2 separate regions of the Homo sapiens genome follow, and region 2 is reported to be linked to region 1. Evidence: microRNA targets listed by miRTarBase, many of them from high-throughput screens and not tested one by one. Region 1 holds a microRNA gene; the other region holds the end of a gene's coding sequence. Distances are from middle to middle.
What was found. Region 1 holds the annotated microRNA hsa-miR-3928-3p (GGAGGAACCUUGGAGCUUCGGC, at 4,857-4,878, shown strand). A microRNA usually pairs through its seed, bases 2 to 8, with sites in the 3' UTR of a target mRNA and lowers its output. Matches are read on the target gene's strand: a 7mer-m8 pairs with bases 2 to 8, a 7mer-A1 pairs with bases 2 to 7 and ends in A, and an 8mer does both.

Region 1 (10,695 bases):
AAATTCCATCTCAAAAACAAACAATTAAAAAAAAAATAAATTTTAGTGCAAATGCAGGCCGGGTGTGGTGGCACACCTGTAATCCCAGAACTTTGGGAGGCCGAGGCAGGTGGATCACCTGAGGTTGGGACTTCAAGACCAGCCTGCCCAACATGGTGAAACCCCACTCTACTAAAAATACAAAAAACAGCTGGGCATGGTGGCACACGCCTGTAATTGCAGCTATTCAGGAGGCTGAGGCAGGAGAATCGCTTGAACCCGGGAGGGGGGTTGCAGTTAGCTGAGATCATGCCACTGTATTCCAGCCTGGGTGACAGGGTGAGACTCCGTCTCAAAAAAAAAAAAAAAAAAAAAAAGACAATGAGGAACTGTCCCAGATATCTGATGAGACCAGGGAGACTTGACAACTAAATGTGATGTAGGATCCAGGATTGGGTCCTGGAACAGAAAAAGGACACAGTGGGACAAATAGCAAAATCTGAATAAAGTCTCTAGATTAGCTAGTAATATTGTATTAATGTTAAATTTCTTGTTTGGATAATTCTGATATAATTATGTACAGTTTTGACATTAGGTGAAGTTAGATGACAGATATACAGAAAGTTTGTGAATTATTTTTGCAAGTTTAGTATAAGAGTAAAATTATTTCAAAATAAAAAGGCCAGGCGCAGTGGCTCACGGCTGTAATCCCAGCACTTTGGGATGCCAAGGCGGGTGGATCACCTGAGGTCAGGAGTTCAGGACCAGCCTGGCCAACACGGTGAAACCCACCTCTACTAAAAATACAAAAATTGGCCAGGTGTGGTGGCACATGCCTGTAATCCCAGCTACTTGGGAGGCTGGGGCAGGAGAATCGCTTGAACCTGGGAGGCACAGGTTGCAGTGAGCTGAGACTGTCCCACCGCATTCCAGCCTGGGCAACAAGAGTGAAACTCCATCTAAAAAATAATAATAATAATAATAAGGGGCCAGGCACGGTGGCTCAAGCCTGTAATCCCAGCACTTTGGGAAGCTGAGGTGGGTGGATCACTTGAGGTCAGGAGATTGAGACCATCCTGGCCAACATGGTGAAACCCCGTCTCCACTAAAAATACAAAAATTAGCCAGGCAAGGTGGCGTGCACCTGTAGTCCCAGCTACTCAGAAGGCTGAGGCAGGAGAATTGCTTGAGCCCGGGAGGTGGAGGTTACAGTGAGCCGAGATTGCGCCACTGCACTCCAGCCTGGAGGACAGAGTGAGACTCCGTTTCAAATAAATAAATAAATAAATAAATAAATAAATAAAATAAAATAAAAAGTTAAAAAACAATACATGGCTGGGAGTGGTGGCTCATACCTGTAATCCTAGCACTTTGAGAGGCTGAGGCAGGAGAATCATTTGAGCTCGGAGATTTGAGACCAGCCTGGGCAACATAGTGAGACCTCATCTCTACAAGAAACCTAAAAGTTAGCTGGGTGTGGTGGTGTGTGCCCGTAGTCCCAACTACTCGGGTGGCTGAGGTGGGAAGATGGCTTCAGCCCAGGAGGTCAAGGCTGTAGTAGGCTATGTTCGTGCCACTGCACTCCAGCCTGGGCAACAGAGCGAGTCACTGTCTCAAAAAAAAAAAATGTACACGATGCAGGTCAGGAATTGGCAATTTTTTTTCCATAAAGGGCCATAGAGTAAATACTTCAGACTCTGTGGACCATATGGTTTTTATGGGAAGTAATCAACTCCACTGAGTAGCATTAAAGCACCCAAAGACAATATGTAAATATATATGAATATAAATAAATGGGTGTGACTGAAATGAACACTGAAATTTTATCTTCCTGTAATTGTCACCTATGTAATATTATTCTTCTTTTATTTCCCATCATTTAAAAATGTAAAAAGCAGGCCAGACGTGGTGGCTCACGCCTGTAATCCCAGCACCTTGGGAGGCTGAGGCGGGCAGATCACGAGGTCAGGAGATCAAGACCATCCTGGCTAACACAGTGAAACCCTACCTCTACTAAAAATACAAAAAATTAGCCAGTCATCGGGGTGGGCGCCTGTAGTCCCAGCTATTCGGGAGGCTGAGGCAGGAGAATGGCATGAACCCAGGAGGCGGAGCTTGCAGTGAGCTGAGATGGAGCCACTGCATTCCAGCCTGGGCAACAGAGCGAGACTCCGTCTTAAAAAAAAAAAAAAAAGAAAGAAAAATGTAAAAAGCACCCTTAGCTCACAGACCATATAAACAAGCAGTAGGTCCAGGTTTGGTTCACAGCCTATATATAGTATGCAGATCCCCACTCTAGGTCAGAATTTGCTAACGTGTGCTTCAATTAAAAAAAAAAAAAAGATTTGACATCAAGTAGATTAAACAAATGGAACAAGTTATTATCTTGGCTTATAAGGCACATTTCCTTATTGCAGGACCTCTCAGTGGTTTTAATGTGGTATTACACATTGAGAAGCTCCAAGAAAGAATAATGGTATGTGGCTTTCTCAAACTTATTATTAGCATCAAATCCTTTTTTCAGAGCCACTTCTTCAGACCAGTGGCCTGAAGAACATACTTATGAGAATGTCAATTCAGACACTTCTTTAAAAGGAAACTTTTAGATCGAGAAGTTCTAAAAACTCCAACAAATTAAGATCATTTTACCCAGTACCTGGATAACATCTGAATAAGCATTTCACAACTTTTTTATTTTTTAATCTTGGGAAACACAAGTCGATAACTGGCAGGAAGTTTTGGCTCAACCCTAACTTTTGTGGCGGCGGGGGAGCAAGTCAGCAGAACTGGGTCATAATATGGAGCCTCTGCTCCCTAAGACAACATAAACATTCCTAAGCATTCTAGCAGGTGTTGAAAAAGTGATTTAGGCAGAGCTTTGTAATGCACAAAATAAGGACATAATAATGTTTGATTAGAAAACCAAAGGTATGCTAGAGGCCAGGCACAGTGGCTTACACCTGAAATCCCAGCACTTTGGGAGGCTGAGGCAGGCGGATCACTTGAGGTCAGGAGTTCGAGACCAGCCTGGCCAACATGGTGAAACCCCATCTCTACTAAATACTCAAAAAAAAAAAAAAAAAAGCTGGAACTTGTCATGTGTGTGAACTGGCAAGTCAAGTCTATAAGAGGACTGTTTTTATATGATGCATGGAAAGCTAGCCAACAGACTGCAAAAATTCTCTCACATCTATACACATATTGCTGAAGAGAGGATTCAAGCAGGGATTATGTTCCAGGGAAGAGAAGGCTGGTCTGAACAACCTCAAGGGGTGCTTTCAACTGAGAGTCCTCAATTTTGTGATTCAGAGTTCACTGGCTTCTCCTGGTCAAACATAAAATCTTCAGAGGCATTTCCAACTTGTTCTTAGAAAAAAGCTACTAACCCATGGGGTGGGACCCAGTTTACTTATTCATTCAATAAACATTTAAGGTGCCTCTATCAGATATTGGGTCATTCCAAAGTCCTTGAAAAGAAGGATGGTGCACAGGACAACCAGGAAGAGATTATGTAAGGTCAGATGCATTGGCCTTATTTACAGGAGATGTAGGCTAAAGTGATGGAAGTGTCAAAAGAGAAGAAAAAAGTCACATTTGCCTTGAGAGCAGAGTCAGCACCAGAAAGATGCAGAACAACTCCTTGGAATCACAGACTTTCAAGTTGGAAAGGACCTTCATCTAATACCTATATACCTCCCTCGAAAGGAGGCACGGAGGCAATCCATTCACTCCATCGGTGGTCACCTCTGACGATTCTTCCATTTAAGTTCTTCTATTAAGCAAAAATCTTGCCTTCCTGTAGAATTCACCTGTTAGTCCTAGTTCTGCCTCTTTTAGCCTAAAGATGAAGTGGAAGCCCTCTTTGCCGTAACAGTATTTTCAATTTTTAAAAAGTTAATTCCCTTCCAGTGCTCTCTTTACTGAGCTAACCATTCCAGTTCTTTCAAAGTTCCTGAACTGGCACCAGCTGCCTCAAAGCGAAGAATGGATATCTAGTGCTCACAGCAGGAAAGCACTTAAAATCAATGAGCTTCAAACATTAGTATATACAGGACCCCCCTACGCATAAGTTCAGATTCTAAACCAGAAGTCTGAATTGAGTCCCGCGCTGTAAAGCCGGCATCTCAGAGAATTACAAAGCAGATGGTGTAAGAACCATATTTTGAAAAACACTGCCCCGTTTTAGAGACGAGAAAACTGAGGCCCAGCACAGGGAAGAGATTTGGCCCAGAACGCACAATTGTCTGTCGGTGGCGAAGTCTCGAATCCAGGTCTCTTACTTTCAGCCCAACTCTGTTCACCGCGCTCCCCGGCCTCTGCTTCTCCACTCAGGGCAAACTCGTGAAATGCACTCCCAGATGATAGAGGCGGTCTCGCACGGGGGATAGAATGGGAATCAGTGCCCATGCCTCGAAAGGAGAGCTTGTGGGAGCCCTTCTCTTTCGCAAGGCCTCAGTTTCCCCAATCTGTATTCATGGGACGCAGAACCACAACGCCAGCTCGTCCTCTTTTCGGGGACAGACACGACCGGTCTTGCTGTCTCTGGGCCCCTGGGCTCAGATGTTCAAGCCCGTGTGTCCTGGGAAGGCGGACCCGGGTCTCCCGCCCCCGTCCCTAAACTTTGGCGCCCCCGCCCCAACCCCAGCCCCTCACATACCTGCCTCCGCACAGTTAACGCCAGCCCAGTCAATCAGTTTTTCGGGTACACGGCCAATACTAACGCCGCGTCAATCTGTTGGGTAAGACCTCCGACCCCTCCTACGCGGACTCCAGTCACATGACGCGGAGCCGCCCCTCTCGGAGGGACTTCCGGCCCCAACCGGAAGAGGTTAATTTCCATGGCTGAAGCTCTAAGGTTCCGCCTGCGGGCAGGAAGCGGAGGAACCTTGGAGCTTCGGCAGCTTTTCAAAGAGCTTTGGGTTCGGGGCTCCTAAAAGAAAAAAACTGATTCCGGCCGGGCGCGGTGGCTCCCACCTGTAATTCCAGCAGTTTGGGAGGCCGCGGCGGATGGATCACTTGAGGTCAGGAGTTCGAGACCAGCCTGGCCAAAATGGTGAAACCCCTCTGTACTCAAAATACAAAAAGTAGCCGGTCGTGGTGGCGCACACCTGTAATCCCAGCTACTCGGGAGGCTGAGGCAGGATAATCGCTTGAACCCGGGAGGCGGAGGTTGCAGTGAGCTGAGATCGCACCACTGCACTCTAGCCTGGGCGTCAGAGTGAGACTCCGTCAAAAAAAAAAAAAAAAAAGAGAGAGAGAAAGAACTAACTCATTCCGGAAAGTACCAGATAAACTTGGAACATCTTGTTACACCAGAATATAAGGATGATGGTAATAAGAATCATGGGAATGTGTCAAAGAACACAGGAGCTGTCTTTAAGGAGATCTTACTGGCCAAGTCAGGGCAATTTCAGAATCAAAATATGGAGTGATAGTAATAGAGTATAACTAATTGAATAAAATAGTAATCCATGAGTCTTTACAAACATAAAGAAGTGAGCATATTAATGGGTGAAGGGAAAGTCTTCCTTTTAGTAGAATGCTAGCTAATAAACATGGTGGAATTAGGAAATCAATAATGTGTGGTAAAACTAGAGAAACGGGATGTTTACAACAGCAAAAGTGTCTCCCATAAATTAGCTATTGATTACAAAGGGAAAATGGTGATGTTACAGAGGTTTAACCTAGCAGAACAAACAGATCAAAGTGATCAAAGTTAACACCACTAGTTAATGGGTCAGATCAAGGGCCTCCTAATAAAATGCACTGAGAACACATCTGTGGTATTTCTGTCAAAAGTGCACCGTACACATCTCATGAGGAAGTGCTAGAGAACCCCAAATGAAGGACACTGTCTACAAAATAACTCATTGTCATGAAAAACAGAGAAAAGCTGAGGAACTGTTCCAGTTTAAAGGAGACTAAAGAAGCATGACAACAAAATGTGGTGTGTGATTCTAAATAGGACCCTGGACTGGGGTAGTGGTGGTGGTGGAATAGTTGTAATGGACAATATTGGGACAAGTAATGAAATTTGAATATGGATTGTGGATTAGCTGTTAATACATATTGTATCAAATCACATACTGATAGGTGATGGAGCTTGTGATTTGCACTCAAGCAGTCATTGGAGTTCTTGACAGCCATCTTCATTCATTCAACAAGCATTTATTAAGTACCTACAGTTATCCCAGGAACGGTTAGGGATCGGACCTGAGTAGGAGGTGAACATAGTAGATAAAGGCCGGCGCGGTGGCTCACGCCTATAATACCAGCACTTTGGGAGGTCGAGGCAGGCAGATCACCTGAGGTTAGGAGTTCGAGACCAGCCTGGCCAACATGGTGAAACTCATCTCTACTAAAAATACAAAAATTAGCCAGGCGTGGTGGCGGGCACCTGTAATCCCGGCTACTTGGGAGGCTGAGGCTGGAGAATTGCCTGAACCCAGGAGACAGAGGTTATAGTGAGCCAAGATCGTGCCATTGCACTCCAGCCTGGGCGACAAGAGTGAAACTCCATCTCAGAAAAAAAAATAAAAAATAGTAGATGAAATAAGCTCATAGATGAAAGTCCTAGTCTGCCAGCCACCTTTGCAAGTTCCTGTGATCAAGAAGTAATACAAGGGATGTTTCCAGTCACACAAACCTGGATTTGAAACCAAGCGCTAAGAGAAAAACAGCCCCTGACATCCAGGAGATGGTCTGGCACTCACAAATAGACCTTGGTGTGTTCTCTTATTGAACATAAAAACTTCACAGAACATCAACATCAAACAAAGCCACTATGTGACCATGATGGATCAAGACAATAACAAAACCACTTGAATCATGTCTAAACCCAGACAAAACATGAGCATTGTTCGAACTACAAAAATGGCCAAACATTTCCCTATTCTGGCTTGTATAGAGATTATAGATTTAGCCTCGGTCTACTCTTCCCTCCTTCTAAATAATGTTTATCAAGGTACTCACTCATAGGCAGCATCCAATCCAGAAAACCCCATTTTCTTAAGCCCTCGTCCAAATCACCTAATGCAAGCCCAAATCCTATGTGTCCTTTGTAACACTTTGTTACTGAGATGCCCCTTTGTTTGTTTGTTTGTTTGTTTGTTTGTTTTTGAGACAGAGTATCACTCTATCACTCAGGCTGGAGTGCAGTGGTGTGATCTCGGCTCACTGCAGCCTCTGCCTCCTGGGTTCAAGTGATTCTTCTGCCTCAGCCTCCCAAGTAGCTGGGATTACAGGCGCCCACCATCACTCCCGGCTAATTTTTGTATTTTTAGTAGGGACAGGGTTTCACCATGTTGGCCAGGCTGGTCTCGAACTCCTGACCTAAGGTGTTCCTCCCACCTTGGGCTTCTACAGTGCTGGGATTACAGATGTGAACCACCAAGCCCAGCTGCCCTATTGTTTCTCATGATTCATGTCCTCTCACCCTTACCCCATAACAAGTGATAAACTCAACTTGTTTAACCACAGGTGTGTTCCAATTTCTTCCTTCCTCAAAAAGTTGTTATGAGGATACTCGGAACAGGTTCATCACAGAGTGAGCTTTCTCTATCAATCGATCCATTATCTATTTTTTATTTTTTTAAAAAAACATGGTCTCAGCCTGTGGTCCAGACTGGAGTGCAGTGGCACACCATCCTAACTCACTGCAGGCTTCAACTCCTGGGCTCAAGTGATCCTCCCACCTCAGTCTCCTGAATAACTGTGACTACAGGCACGCACCACACCCAGCTAATATTTTTTATTTTTCTGTAGAGACAGGGTCCTGCTGTTGCCCAAGCTGGTCTCAAACTCCTGGCCTCAAGGGATCCTCCCAGTTTGGTCTCCCAAAGTGTTGGGATTACAGGCATGAGCCACCTCACCCAATGCTTTCAATATACTTTTAAAAATTATACATATATTTTTGAGACAGCACCTCACTCTGTCACTCAGATTGGAGTACAGTGATGCCATCTTGACTCACCTCAACCTCCGCCTCCCTAGCTCAAGCGATTCTCCTGTCTCAGCCTCCTGAGTATCTGGGATTACAGGTGCATGCCACTACCACCCAGCTAATTTTTGTATTTTTAGTAGAGATGGGATTTCACCATGTTGGCCAGGCTGCTCTCGAACTCCTGACTTCAGGTGATTTGCCCTCCTCAGCCTCCCAAAGTGTTGGGATTACAGGCGTGAGCCACCACGTTTCCCCCTCAGCTTGCATTGTTTCTGGGAGAACCTGCACCATACCTTTATCTATAGCTTTCCCCCAGGTCTTAAGAAGCACGAAGTTTTAACTGTGGACACGGGATTTGGTGAAGCAGCAATCACGACTGTGGGCACGAGTAGCAAGGCTGCAGCAGCACATTGACTATAGAATGAAATGCATCCTACAGGAAGGCACAATCTTCTTTGGCATCTTTAAGGCGTTTGACAAGCATGTGAATTTGATCCTCTGCGATTGTGATGAGTTCAGAAAGATCAAGCCAAAGAACGTGAAGCAACCAGAGCTCGAAGAAAAGCACTTTTGGGGTCTGGTGTTGCTGCATGGGGAGAACTTGGTATCCATGACTGTGGAGGGGCTACCCCCAAAATATACTGGCATTGCTCGGGTACCACTTGCTGGAGCTGCAGGAGGCCCTGGAGTTGTTAGGGCAGCTGGTAGAGGAGTATCAGCTGGTGTACCAATTCCCCAGGCTCCTGGTGGATTAGCAGGCCCCGTCCCAGGAGTTGGGGGACCATCCCAGCAGGTAATGACTCCACAGAGAAGAGCATTACTGGAGCCCCAACACAGTACCCACCAGGACCGGGGGCTCCACCCCCACCTGTTGGCAGAGCAGCCCCACCTCTAGGCATTATGTTTCCTCCACCTGGTATGAAACCACCCATGGGCCCACCAATTGGGCTTCCCCTTGCTAGAGGGACGCCAGTAGGCATGCCCCCTCCAGGAATGAGACCCTTTCCACCAGGAATGCATCCACCAAGACCCTGGGATATTGCTGATCCATCTCAGTCACTTTTCCCCCTGCAATGCATCTTGTGAAATTGTATAGTGTTTGTGAGCTTTTTGTCCCTTCTTTCTGCGTTAATCATAGCTAATAATAAATGCCTAAAGCAATTAAACTGTGGGAAAAAAGATATTGAAGCCATCAGCTTTCATTAAGATAAACTCCCTGATTATATTCCTCTTTGCTCTTTTTGTTGGGTTCATAAGGTGGAAAAAATGGAGAGAGTTCAACTTTTCCTTAGTCGGAAATGAGGTCATTCTCATGGTATTTTCTGGAAAGCAATAACCACGTTCCTGAAACTTTAACATTAGGGAACCAGCACTGTTTATTTCTTCATGTTCTTGTTATTAAAAACGTTCCCAAGAAGTAGCAGAATTGGAACTACCAAACTTGGAAGCACTTCAGCTTCAAAAATATATCAAGTAATATCTTCTCTGCTTTAGCACACTAAGGCACTTATAATCCCTGGAAGCCCTGTTGGTGATGTTGGCATTTATCCTGCTGGAACCCAGCATAGATTTAATATTATTTGATGCCTACAACATTGTGCTGAATAAAAAATATTCATTCCGGTGGGAAATAATTTTAAAAATATAAATTTTCTGATTTCTTCCTCTGCTTGCTCCCAAGTCCCCCTGCCCCCTCCCCTTCTTTGCCCTTACTCCTTTAATAATAATAATAGCAGTAGCTAACATTTATTGAATGTTTATAAAGTGCTGCATACTGTGCTAAGGGCTTTATGCAATTTAACCCTCACCCCAGGATTGTGAAGGAAGTCTTACTACAGATGAGAGGCTAGAGGACCAGAGAAGTTAAGCAACATGCCCAAGACTACACAGCTGGTAAGAATCAGGCCCAAAATTGGAATCCGCCCTCAAAACCTGCTCCTGTTGAAATGTTGCTTCACCACCCTGGCACAGAGAGTAGGGTCTGTGAAGGGATGGAAGGAGTGATAGACTGGCAAGGAAGGAAGGGCTTGGGGTAGTGGGTGGGGTGGGTGGGAGTGGAAGACCATGCAGAGGCATTTAGACCCTCTCCAGAGGGCAGAGGGAAGGGATGGAGATTAGGAACACAACACAAATAGGAGGCCCCTGTAGAACCTCAGGGGGAGCCATGAGTTTGGGGGACCAGGAAGGTTGAAGAGTGGGTAAATTAGGCCAGGCGCGGTAGCTCATCATGCCTGTAATCCCAGCACTTTGGGAGGCTGAGGCGGGCGGATGACCTGAGGTCAGGAGTTCGAGACCAGCTCAGCTAACATGGTGAAACCCTGTCTCTACTACAAATACAAAAATTAGCTGGGCATGGTGGTGGGTGCCTGCAATCCCAGCTACTTGGGAGGTTGAGGTAGGAGAATCATTTGAACTGGGGAGGCGGAGGTTGCAGTGAGCCGAGATCACACCATTGCACTCCAGCCGGGGCGACAAGAGTGAAATTCTGTCTCAAAAAAACAAAACAAAAACAAAAACAAAAAACAAAAAACAACAACCAAAGAGTGGGTAAATTATAAGGTGGGAGAAGGGCATGATTAAGGACCTGGGCCACAGGTGTTTACTTGCCAAGTGAGGAGAGGCAAGAAGTCTGGGGGACCTTCTGGCCCACTTGATTTTTTTTTTTTTTTTTAACAGAGTCTCCCTCTGTCACCCAGGCTGGAGTGCGGTGGCACAATCTTGGCTCATTGCAACCTCTGCCTCCTGGGTTCAAGCGATTTTTCATGCCTCGGCCT
Region 2 (10,695 bases), 4.4 Mb from region 1:
GCTGACGCTGCCTCGCAAGTGCCTTTCAGAAGAGCCCACACTGCAGTTCCCTCCATCACCTCCCATCCATTCAGGCTTCCTTGGTTAACACTGACTGTGTGCCAGGCCCTGGGGAGACCAGGACGAGTGGGTGATGGAACCCTTCTCTGTGCCCGAGCTGTTTGGAGCACACCTTTGATCTGGACACCATTCTGAATGTGCCATGTGCCATTAAATGGGGGTAAATGATGTGCTCTGGGGGTGCAGAGGAAGGTGGCAGCCATTCTGCCAGAAGCTGGAACTGGTTGCTTCTCTTCTCAAGAATTTGGGCCAATTGCTGATTCCTCTGGGCCTCAGTTTCCTCATCTGTGAGACAGGGATCTTGTCACACCACAAGGCTATCAAGAGTTTGAGCAAAAGTGGTTGGACGCAGTGGCTCATGCCTGTAATCCCAGCTCTTTGGGAGGCCGAGGTGGGCAGATCTCTTGAGGTCAGGAGTTCAAGACCAGCCTGGCTAACACAGTGAAACACCGTCTCTACTAAAAAATACAAAAAATTAGCCAGGTGTGGTGATGGGCACCTGTAATCCCAGTTACTCGGGAGGCTGAGGCAGGAGAATCTCTTGAACCCAGGAGGTGGAGGTTGCAGTGAGCTGAGATCTTGCCATTGCATTCCAGGCTGGGCAACAAGAGTGAAACTCTGTCTCAGAAAATAAATAAATAAATAAATAAAAAATAGCTAGGCATGGTGACAGGCGCCTGTAATCCCAGCTGCTCCAGAGGCTGAGGCAGGAGAATCGCTTAAACCCAGGAGGTGGAAGTTGCAGTGAGCCAAGATCACACCACTGCACTCCAGCCTGGGCCACAGAGAAAGACTCCATCTCAAAAAAAAAAAAAAAAAAAAAAAAGTTTAAGCAAAAGTGAGGAAGGTGCTTATTAAAAGCTGGAAATCAGGATGGAGGTACCAGTCCAGACAGCCTCCCCACCACCCCACCGTCTCCACAGCAGCCCCTGTTTCAGATTCACAAGCCTGCCTTGAGTGATGCAGTGAGTTATCCTGGAGGCAGTGTGGGCCTTGGAGGCCAGCACTCACTTTTTCATCCTATGATTTATTTGAGAAGCAGAGAGCACCTACCGGGTGCCAGGCACGAGCTAGGTGAGAACAGAATCAGGTAGAAATCTCAGCCTAGCCACACGGAAGCTGTGTGATCTTGGGCAGGCTGCATACCCTTTCTGAGCCTCAGTTTGCTCACCTGTAATGCAAAGGTAACAAAATCTTGACAGAGGCATAGTGAGGAATCAAGAGAACAACGGGCCTGGAGCATACACCCAGTGCTTAGCCCCCAGTAGGCCCTCACTCTCATCATTACTGACACCTGAGGTCACTGAGCATGTGCCACTGTCCATTCATTATCTTGCATAACTCCCAAAATCATCCTGCAAGGTAATATTTCATCTTCATGAAACAGACAGAGAAACTGAGGTTACAGAGGTTTCGTGATCTGCCCAAGTCTGCTGGCAGCTAAGCGGATGAGGCCAGATGCAAACTAGGCATTGAGCAAGACAGGCAGGACCCCTGCTCTCATAGAAATGATTTTTATTATTATCTGAACACAGTCCACACAAGTGACCTACCCCTCTCCAGCCCTGCAAAGAAATGTGAAGTGAGTTAACTGTATTTGAACCAAGTGGTCCACGTGTTAGCTATGCGACTGTGAACAGGGGCTTCAACCCCCTCAGCCTCAGTTTCCTGTCCTGGAAAATAATCGCAGGGAGAATAATCGCAGCTACCCCGAAGAGTCGCTGTGTAGGTTAAAGCAGTTATGCCGCATAACTGCTTCAGGGCACCTGTGACTCCCAGCTCTTAGGGCTGATGTTCTGTGGCCAGAGGAGGGCAGGGGTTGCAGCTGGCCGGTGAACTCACTACCTGGGCTCTCTCCCTGCAGGGGATGTCTTCATCCTGGTGTTCAGCCTGGATAACCGGGAGTCCTTCGATGAGGTCAAGCGCCTTCAGAAGCAGATCCTGGAGGTCAAGTCCTGCCTGAAGAACAAGACCAAGGAGGCGGCGGAGCTGCCCATGGTCATCTGTGGCAACAAGAACGACCACGGCGAGCTGTGCCGCCAGGTGCCCACCACCGAGGCCGAGCTGCTGGTGTCGGGCGACGAGAACTGCGCCTACTTCGAGGTGTCGGCCAAGAAGAACACCAACGTGGACGAGATGTTCTACGTGCTCTTCAGCATGGCCAAGCTGCCACACGAGATGAGCCCCGCCCTGCATCGCAAGATCTCCGTGCAGTACGGTGACGCCTTCCACCCCAGGCCCTTCTGCATGCGCCGCGTCAAGGAGATGGACGCCTATGGCATGGTCTCGCCCTTCGCCCGCCGCCCCAGCGTCAACAGTGACCTCAAGTACATCAAGGCCAAGGTCCTTCGGGAAGGCCAGGCCCGTGAGAGGGACAAGTGCACCATCCAGTGAGCGAGGGATGCTGGGGCGGGGCTTGGCCAGTGCCTTCAGGGAGGTGGCCCCAGATGCCCACTGTGCGCATCTCCCCACCGAGGCCCCGGCAGCAGTCTTGTTCACAGACCTTAGGCACCAGACTGGAGGCCCCCGGGCGCTGGCCTCCGCACATTCGTCTGCCTTCTCACAGCTTTCCTGAGTCCGCTTGTCCACAGCTCCTTGGTGGTTTCATCTCCTCTGTGGGAGGACACATCTCTGCAGCCTCAAGAGTTAGGCAGAGACTCAAGTTACACCTTCCTCTCCTGGGGTTGGAAGAAATGTTGATGCCAGAGGGGTGAGGATTGCTGCGTCATATGGAGCCTCCTGGGACAAGCCTCAGGATGAAAAGGACACAGAAGGCCAGATGAGAAAGGTCTCCTCTCTCCTGGCATAACACCCAGCTTGGTTTGGGTGGCAGCTGGGAGAACTTCTCTCCCAGCCCTGCAACTCTTACGCTCTGGTTCAGCTGCCTCTGCACCCCCTCCCACCCCCAGCACACACACAAGTTGGCCCCCAGCTGCGCCTGACATTGAGCCAGTGGACTCTGTGTCTGAAGGGGGCGTGGCCACACCTCCTAGACCACGCCCACCACTTAGACCACGCCCACCTCCTGACCGCGTTCCTCAGCCTCCTCTCCTAGGTCCCTCCGCCCGACAGTTGTGCTTTGTTGTGGTTGCAGCTGTTTTCGTGTCATGTATAGTAGTAGAAATGGAAATCATTGTACTGTAAAAGCCTAGTGACTCCCTCCTTGGCCAGGCCCTCACCCAGTTCAGATCCACGGCCTCCACCCGGGACGCCTTCCTCCTCTGCTCCCAAACAGGGTTTCCGTGGCCTGTTTGCAGCTAGACATTGACCTCCGCCATTGAGCTCCACGGTTTACAGACAATTGCACAAGCGTGGGGTGGGCAGGCCAGGACTGCTTTTTTTTAATGCTCCCATTTCACAGAGGATACCACCGAGACTCGGAGGGGACACGATGAGCACCAGGCCCCACCTTTGTCCCCTAGCAAATTCAGGGTACAGCTCCACCTAGAACCAGGCTGCCCTCTACTGTGCTCGTTCCTCAAGCATTTATTAAGCACCTACTGGGTGCTGGGTTCACTGTGTCCTAGGAAACCAAGAGGGTCCCCAGTCCTGGCCTCTGCCCGCCCCTGCTGCCCCACCACCTTCTGCACACACAGCGGTGGGGAGGCGGGGAGGAGCAGCTGGGACCCAGAACTGAGCCTGGGAGGGATCCGACAGAAAAGCTCAGGGCGGGTCTTCTCCTTGTGCCCGGGATTGGGCTATGCTGGGTACCACCATGTACTCAGGCATGGTGGGTTTTGAACCCATAAACCAAAGGCCCTTGTCATCAGCTCTTAACAAGTATATTTTGTATTTTAATCTCTCTAAACATATTGAAGTTTTAGGGCCCTAAGGAACCTTAGTGATCTTCTATTGGGTCTTTCTGAGGTTCAGAGAGGGTAAGTAACTTCCTCCAGGTCACACAGCAAGTCTGTGGGTGGCAGAAGCAAGCTAGCGCTGGGCATTCAGTACATACCACGATGTGCTCCCTCTCTTGATGCTTGGCCCCTGGGGCCTTCAGGGCTTTGGGACATCTTGTCCTCAACCCTCTCCCTAGATCAGTCTGTGAGGGTCCCTGTAGATATTGTGTACACCATGCCCATGTATATACAAGTACACACAGATGTACACACAGATGTACACATGCTCCAGCCCCAGCTCTGCATACCTGCACCTGCACCCCAGCCTTGGCCCCTGCCTGCGTCTGTGCTCAAAGCAGCAGCTCCAACCCTGCCTCTGTCCCCTTCCCCACCCACTGCCTGAGCCTTCTGAGCAGACCAGGTACCTTGGCTGCACCGGTGTGTGGCCCGCTCTCACCCAGGCACAGCCCCGCCACCATGGATCTCCGTGTACACTATCAATAAAAGTGGGTTTGTTACAAAGCCGTGTCCTTGCCCATGTGTATTTTTTGTATTTCCAAGAGGAGGTGTGCCCCTTTCCAGACCAAAGCTGGCCTTTCCCTCCCAAAATGCACCTGCCGTGTGCCCTGGCCCTGAGGGTCAGCACTGAGTCCACCTTCAAGTGTAAGTGTGGGGAGAGGGGGATAAGTCCCCCAGATGGAAGGTGATGCCCTCCTTCAGCCTGGCCCTCCTGGGTCCTCCGGGTGTGTGTACCGAGGTGTCTGTGTCCACAAAGAAGGGGCCCCCGTGGACCATTAGCTCCAGGAGGATCTCCGTGTCTGAGTTCTTTGTGATTCCTGTACAGCAGCAATTTCACCCGCAGGGGACAGTTGGCAATCTCTGGAAACCTTTTCCAAGCCTGGGGCTGGGGCTGCTACTCTCATCTGGTGGGTGGAGGCCAGGGACACCATTCAGTATCCTCCAACGCACAGGATGCCCCTCCACCCCCACCCCACTGAGAATTATCTGGCCTCAAATGCCAAGCGTGGGCAGCCTTACTTAGACTCACCCCAGGGGCTGGGACACGCCCCCACCTGCGTGTGATGGATTTGTTGGACCACATTCTGGACGGAACCCACAGCATGAGCACTCCTGTGAAGTGAGACAGGATGTGGGTGAGGATGGAAAGTGGAGGCTGAGGGAGAAGGTCTGGGCCCTGACCAACACGGAATGTGCCCCCTGGGACTGAGAGGCTTCCCTGGGCAGAGGGAAAGGAGGAAGTCAGTGAGGTAAAATACTCCCTGTGTGTTTTACCCAGCGAGTCTCACGCCATCCTATCACCCAGCCCCGAGGGAAGCCCACTCATGTTCACCCCATCTGAGCATTTAGGCTCAGAGAGCTCAATATCTTGTCCAAGATGGCACAGCTGGTGAAGTGGCAGATCAGAGATTCAACACCAGAGGCTGTCTGATTTCCGTCTGGCTGAAGAAAGATTTTGCATCAGGGAGGTGGAAACCATCTGTGCTTTTGATCAGCAAATGCCACCAGCAGGATCAGGGAGCTAGGCCATAAAGGAGGTCGAGAGACAGGCAGTGTAAGGTTCATTGGGAACCACATTGTCCATTGGGAAGCCACAACCTCTGCACAGACATTCACAAAACAGAGCCAGGCTGTGGTGGAGGCGAGACCACACAAGTCCATAGTGTGGGGAGCTGGAGAACTCCCAGCCTCTACCTACCTGGGGGCCCCGCTCCCAGCCTGTGCATATCTGGGGGCCCGCTCCCAGCCTCTGCATATCTGGGGGCCCTGCTTTCAGCCTCTGCCTACCTGGGGGACCCTGCTTCTAGTCCCTGCCTACCTGGGGGCTCGGCTCCTAACCTCTGCCTACCTGGGGCCTGTCTCCCAGCTTCTGATAATCTAGCAGCCCAGCTCCCCTCCAATCCTTTGCCCACCCCAGCCACAGAAGGTCAGTGTGGGAGGCATGTCCCTCGGACACTTTCTAGATCCTGGTTTTCATACACACAAAGCATGGAGGCGAACACTCCCTTCTGCATCGCCATCAGCGCTGAACCATAACAAGGGCGCTGGTGCACAGAGACAGGCCTCCACGGTGTCCCGCTGGAGCCCAGCCTGCTGCTGCCACTCCCTTTCTCTATGTGGGTCTGGAAATAAGTCTCGTCCCCTCGCAGGCCTCCTTTTCTTCATGAGTAAATGGGAGGCGGGAGGAAGGCATCCGGACCAGATACACACCAACAGCCTCTCGCAGCCCTGATGGTCTCTACTAGAAGGAATTAATATTCCTATTGCATAACTCACAACATTCCAATCATCACCAAACAGAACACGCTCGCCCCAGCCCCAGCTCTAGCCCCACTCTTTGTTCCCTGCATCCCACAGTCCTTGCCCTGGAATGGGGTTGACAGCAACAGGCTGCCACAGAGGAGAAAGACACATGTCTTCTTAGCCCTGGGACAGTGGGTAGGATAAGATTGTAGGAAAATTCCCTTCATGGTGAGACCATTTAGAGCCAAGCCCAGGATAGCCGGCTAATCCCCCGACCCTAGGAAGGGAGCATTGGGAACATGATTTCAAAGAATTCTGCGCTGTGAACTCTAAGTACTTGTTCTGTTCCACCTCCCTGAACCTGTCACTTACTCGAAAGAAAAACTTCAGTCTGCATCACGGTTTGGTGGGGGCTGATGGGAGGCCTGCCAGGGGCTCGGCAGTGAAGGCTGCCGGGAATGGGGGAAGGGAAAAGGAGCTGACCTTTGCGAAGACCTTACTCTGTGCCAAGCACTGTGCTGAGCCTTTTACCTGCGTCCTGTCATTGAATCCTCATGGCAGAGCTAGCTGGAATCCTTTTTTGGATAAGAGAGAATGGAGTTCAGAGAGGTAAAGTCACTTGTCCAAAGTTGCACAGCCAGGAAGGAGCAGAGCTGGATGAGAAACCATGTCTGATTCCAAAGCACATTTTTGTCTCCAGGGCTTTTATAACTGAGCCAGCTGAGAGGTTGCTCTCTAGTGGGAGAGTCCAGTGAGTTGGGGTGCAGTGTCTGGACGTGGTTCAGGGAACTCAGAAAATGGGGTGCTCTTCCGTTCACAATAAAAGGCTGAGCTGCTGTCACAAGAGAGGAACCCAACTTCTTTTTCATGGCAAAGTCACTCTGCTCCACCTGGTCACTCAGGCACCCAGGTTTCTTCCGTCTTCAGGTTCTTCCATCTCTAGGACCTTGTCACCATCTGCACGGTTGAAGCCACTGTAACATTCAGGTTCAGCCGAAGGGATAGGGGAAGAGAGTGTGGAAGAGGTACACCTGCTGTTTTCAGAGCCATGGACTCATCACTTCCACTTTCTAGCAATGGCAAGAGCCCAGCCATGTGACTGTACCTACCTATGAGAAGGCCTGAGAGATGCAGTCCTTTGCTAGGTGGCCCCATGCCCAGCGGTGACTCCACTGTGGAAAGGAGGAGGAGAGATCTGGTTGGCCAGCCTGTTGTCTCCAAACAGCCACCCTAATGCAGTGGGCCAGCCTCGGGACACCACGGGCAGTCTGACTTCAAACAAGCTCCACTTAGCAGATGAAATCAGAAAGCAGCTCTAGGCTCCCAAGGCTGCTTTAAATTGGCTCTGAGCAGGCCGGGTGAGGTGGCTCACGCCTGTAATCCCAGCACTTTGGGAGGCTGAGGCGGGCGGATCACCTGAGGTCGGGAGTTCGAGCCCAGCCCGACCAACATGGAGAAACCTCGTCTCTACTAAAAATACAAAATTAACCAACCATGGTGGCGCATGCCTGTAATCCCAACTACTCGGGAGGCTGAGGCAGGAGAATAGCTTGAACCCGGGAGACGGAGGTTGCAGTGAGCCGAGATCACACCATTGCACTCCAGCCTGGGCAACAACAGCGAAACTCTGTCTCAAAAATAAATAAATAAATAAATAAAAATAATTGGCTCTGAGAACTTATTCACATCCAACCCCCATCCCCAGATGAAAACTTAGACTATCCCATGATTTTTCTCATCTCTCTTGGAAAACAGAATATACCACAGACATTTTAAGTAGTAAGTAGAGTCTCAACTAAAATTCCTTGGCCAGTGTGATCATCAGTTTCCAGTCTTCATTCAAAAGAGTTTCCCTCCCTCGCCCAGCGGTGGTCTATTGCACATAAAAAGCTGGAGACTTGGGAAGAGAAGGGTGGATACTTCACTTTTCTCACTTGCCTTCTCTCTCTTTAGCTACTTCTGGTTCCTCTCTTCTCCATTCTTGGGAGGTGGGTTTGGGGGTGGAGGGAGAAGAGGCTGAGAAGGGGGTGGAGGGAGAAGAGCAGGGAGTTCTTCCTTGCCTAGTTACTACGGCACTTTGGGAAGATGGTGTCACGTTCCAAGCATGGCCAATGTTTAATGATACCATTAAAATCTCAGGGGTTATTTTGGAGATTGTTCCCTGCCATCACTAGGAACCTGTTATCTGCAGAGGCTTCTATGCATCTCTATCTTCCGGGTGTACCTCTTCCACACTCTCTTCCCCTATCCCTTCGGCTGAACCTGAATGTGGCAGTGGCTTCAACTAGGCAGATGGTGACAAGGTCCTAGAGATGAAGGAACCGGAAGACAGAAGAAACCTGGGTTGGTTGCTTAGTCCCTCCGCAGCCCCAAGGAATCTTCTGACGCCTTTTGATTCTCTGTGCAGAGGCTTTTTGCCCCTTTGGGGTGTTCTATCGGACAGGGCCTGAGGCACCCCCATGCCAGCTTCCTCTTGTGGTCAGCCCACATCTGGCGCATATGAAACTCACACCCTCTACCCCAATCAACTCTAAGAGTGTAAGTTGCTCTGAGTTTACTGGGATCTTTAGCATCTAACCCAGCCAGTCTGTCACATGTGAGATTTATCAGGCAGAGGACAGTGGCCCACAGAGCCACTCTGCCCAGGGACACATGTCCAGCTCTCTAGGCTTGAGCTAAGGGCAGTCCCTGTCACAGCATACTGTAGTGCTCAACAGTGATTCTCTTTCCCAGGAAATCTTCTTCCTGCTGACTATTGTATATCTTGAGAAGTACAAGAGTCAAGGAGCTGGTTCTTGGCCAAATGCTTTGAAAATTTTGCTCTTGGTTTGATACCTTACTTTGGAATCTGAGGTCAGCCTTCTTAAAGTGTCAGCCAAAATGAAGAAGCCAGGGTCATCCACCAGATAAAGGGGTCTGGGGAATGGCACTCACAGAGGGACCCCTACCTCATCTAGGAAGAGGAACCCTGAGCAGGAAAGTGAGTTAGAGAGTTCAGGATTGAACCAACCCAGGTATCCTGGGTGCACACCTTAATGCGCCCCTCAGTAAGAGAGGCAGAGCATTTGGCTTGTTCATAACGTAGTCTCTGGTCTGAGGCTGCCTGAGTTCAAATCTCACGTCTGCCATTTGCTCATCTGCTAAAAGGCAAATGACTTTTTGTATTGGTCAGCTATTGCTGCAATAGTGCTGTGTAACAAACCACCCCAAAATTCAGTAGTTCTCAACAACAAGCATTTCTTCTTAGGTTTACAGGTCCCTAGGTCAATTGCAGTTTGAGTGGACTGGGCTGAATATCACCTCAATACTGATCTTGTCTTTATTTAAATTTTTGACATTTTGTTCCTTATGGATTTTTTGCATTAATTTTTATTTTAAAAATATTACATAAGTCTGTGAACCGTGGCTCCCACCTGTAAACCCAGCACTTTGGGAGGCCAAGGCAGGAGGATGGCTTGAGGCCAGGGGTTCAAGACCAGCCTAGGCAACATGGAGAAACCCCATCTCTGCAAAAATCACAAAAATTTAGCCAAGTGTGGTGGCACATGCCTGTGGTCCCAGCTACTTGGGAGGCTGAGATGGGGGAATCACTTGAACTCAGGAGGTTGAGGCTGCAGTGAGCTATGGTCATGCCACTGCACTCCAGCCTGGGCAACAGAGTGAGACCCTGTCTCAAAAAATTGTATCTATCTATCTATCTATCTATCTATCTATCTATATTAATGATAGCACTAAATATCATTAATTTATAATGATAATATATAAATAATAATAATAATTACAATAATATATAAATAGAATTATAATTATAATATAAATTAATATAAATATAATACAATATATAATAAAAATTATAATTATATATAAATATTAACAGTAGCATTATATATATATATATAAAAAACATGAAAATATTATTCACCTTGATTCCTGGGGGTTTTTGTGGGTGAGGGGGCATCTGAAGTATTGTGCTTAAGGTAATTGCCTCCCTTGCCTCACCCTAGTTCTGGCTGTGGCTCCTCCGTATCTTCTCCATGACTCAGCGTCCTCATTTGTAAAATAGGAATAATCACACCACCTCACTGGATGGTTATGAGAACTAAATGACTTATTACTTGTGAAACATTTAGAATGGTGCCTGGCACATCATAAGCACCAGCCATAATGATTTCTGTGTCACTGAGGCTCCTTGCAGGTGCACCTGGGGGTGAGCAGCATTCCCACTGGGGCCCCCACCCTGGTCAGCATGGACTCTTCCATTTCTTCATCCTGGACTCTCAGTGAGGACCACACAAGGTGGACACCAAAGCACTTGGCGATTTGTCACATGGGGTACAGACGTCGGTCATCAGGATCATTTGACACATGTTCAATATCGGGTTTTAAGACACAGCCCCTACATTCTTTGGCGTGCCTCCCATCAAGAGGTGGAGTCTATGCCCCTCCCCTTGATCAGGGCAAGATGCTGATTGCTTTGACCAATGGTGTGCACTGGAGTAATGCTCTGTGACTTCTAGGGCCAGGTCAGAAAAGG

Region 2: miRTarBase lists RASD2 as a target of hsa-miR-3928-3p. Seed matches in the 3' UTR shown: 8mer at 3,094-3,101 and 8mer at 3,534-3,541.

Annotation. Positions count from the first base shown.
Region 1 is chr22:31,154,245-31,164,939 of GRCh38, reverse strand. It overlaps MIR3928 (microRNA 3928), which reads left to right and starts at 4,821; the gene lies at 4,821-4,878. RNF185 (ring finger protein 185) reads right to left here and starts at 4,758. Exons shown (of 7, transcript NM_152267.4): 1 at 4,637-4,758. It also overlaps the pseudogene SNRPNP2. RefSeq lists a silencer at 8,703-8,997.
Region 2 is chr22:35,549,579-35,560,273 of GRCh38, forward strand. RASD2 (RASD family member 2) reads left to right here. Exons shown (of 3, transcript NM_014310.4): 3 at 1,925-4,421. The coding sequence ends at 2,454. Among named protein-coding and RNA genes, the nearest start is that of RASD2, 14 kb to the left of the region's middle. RefSeq lists enhancers at 1-175, 2,712-3,691.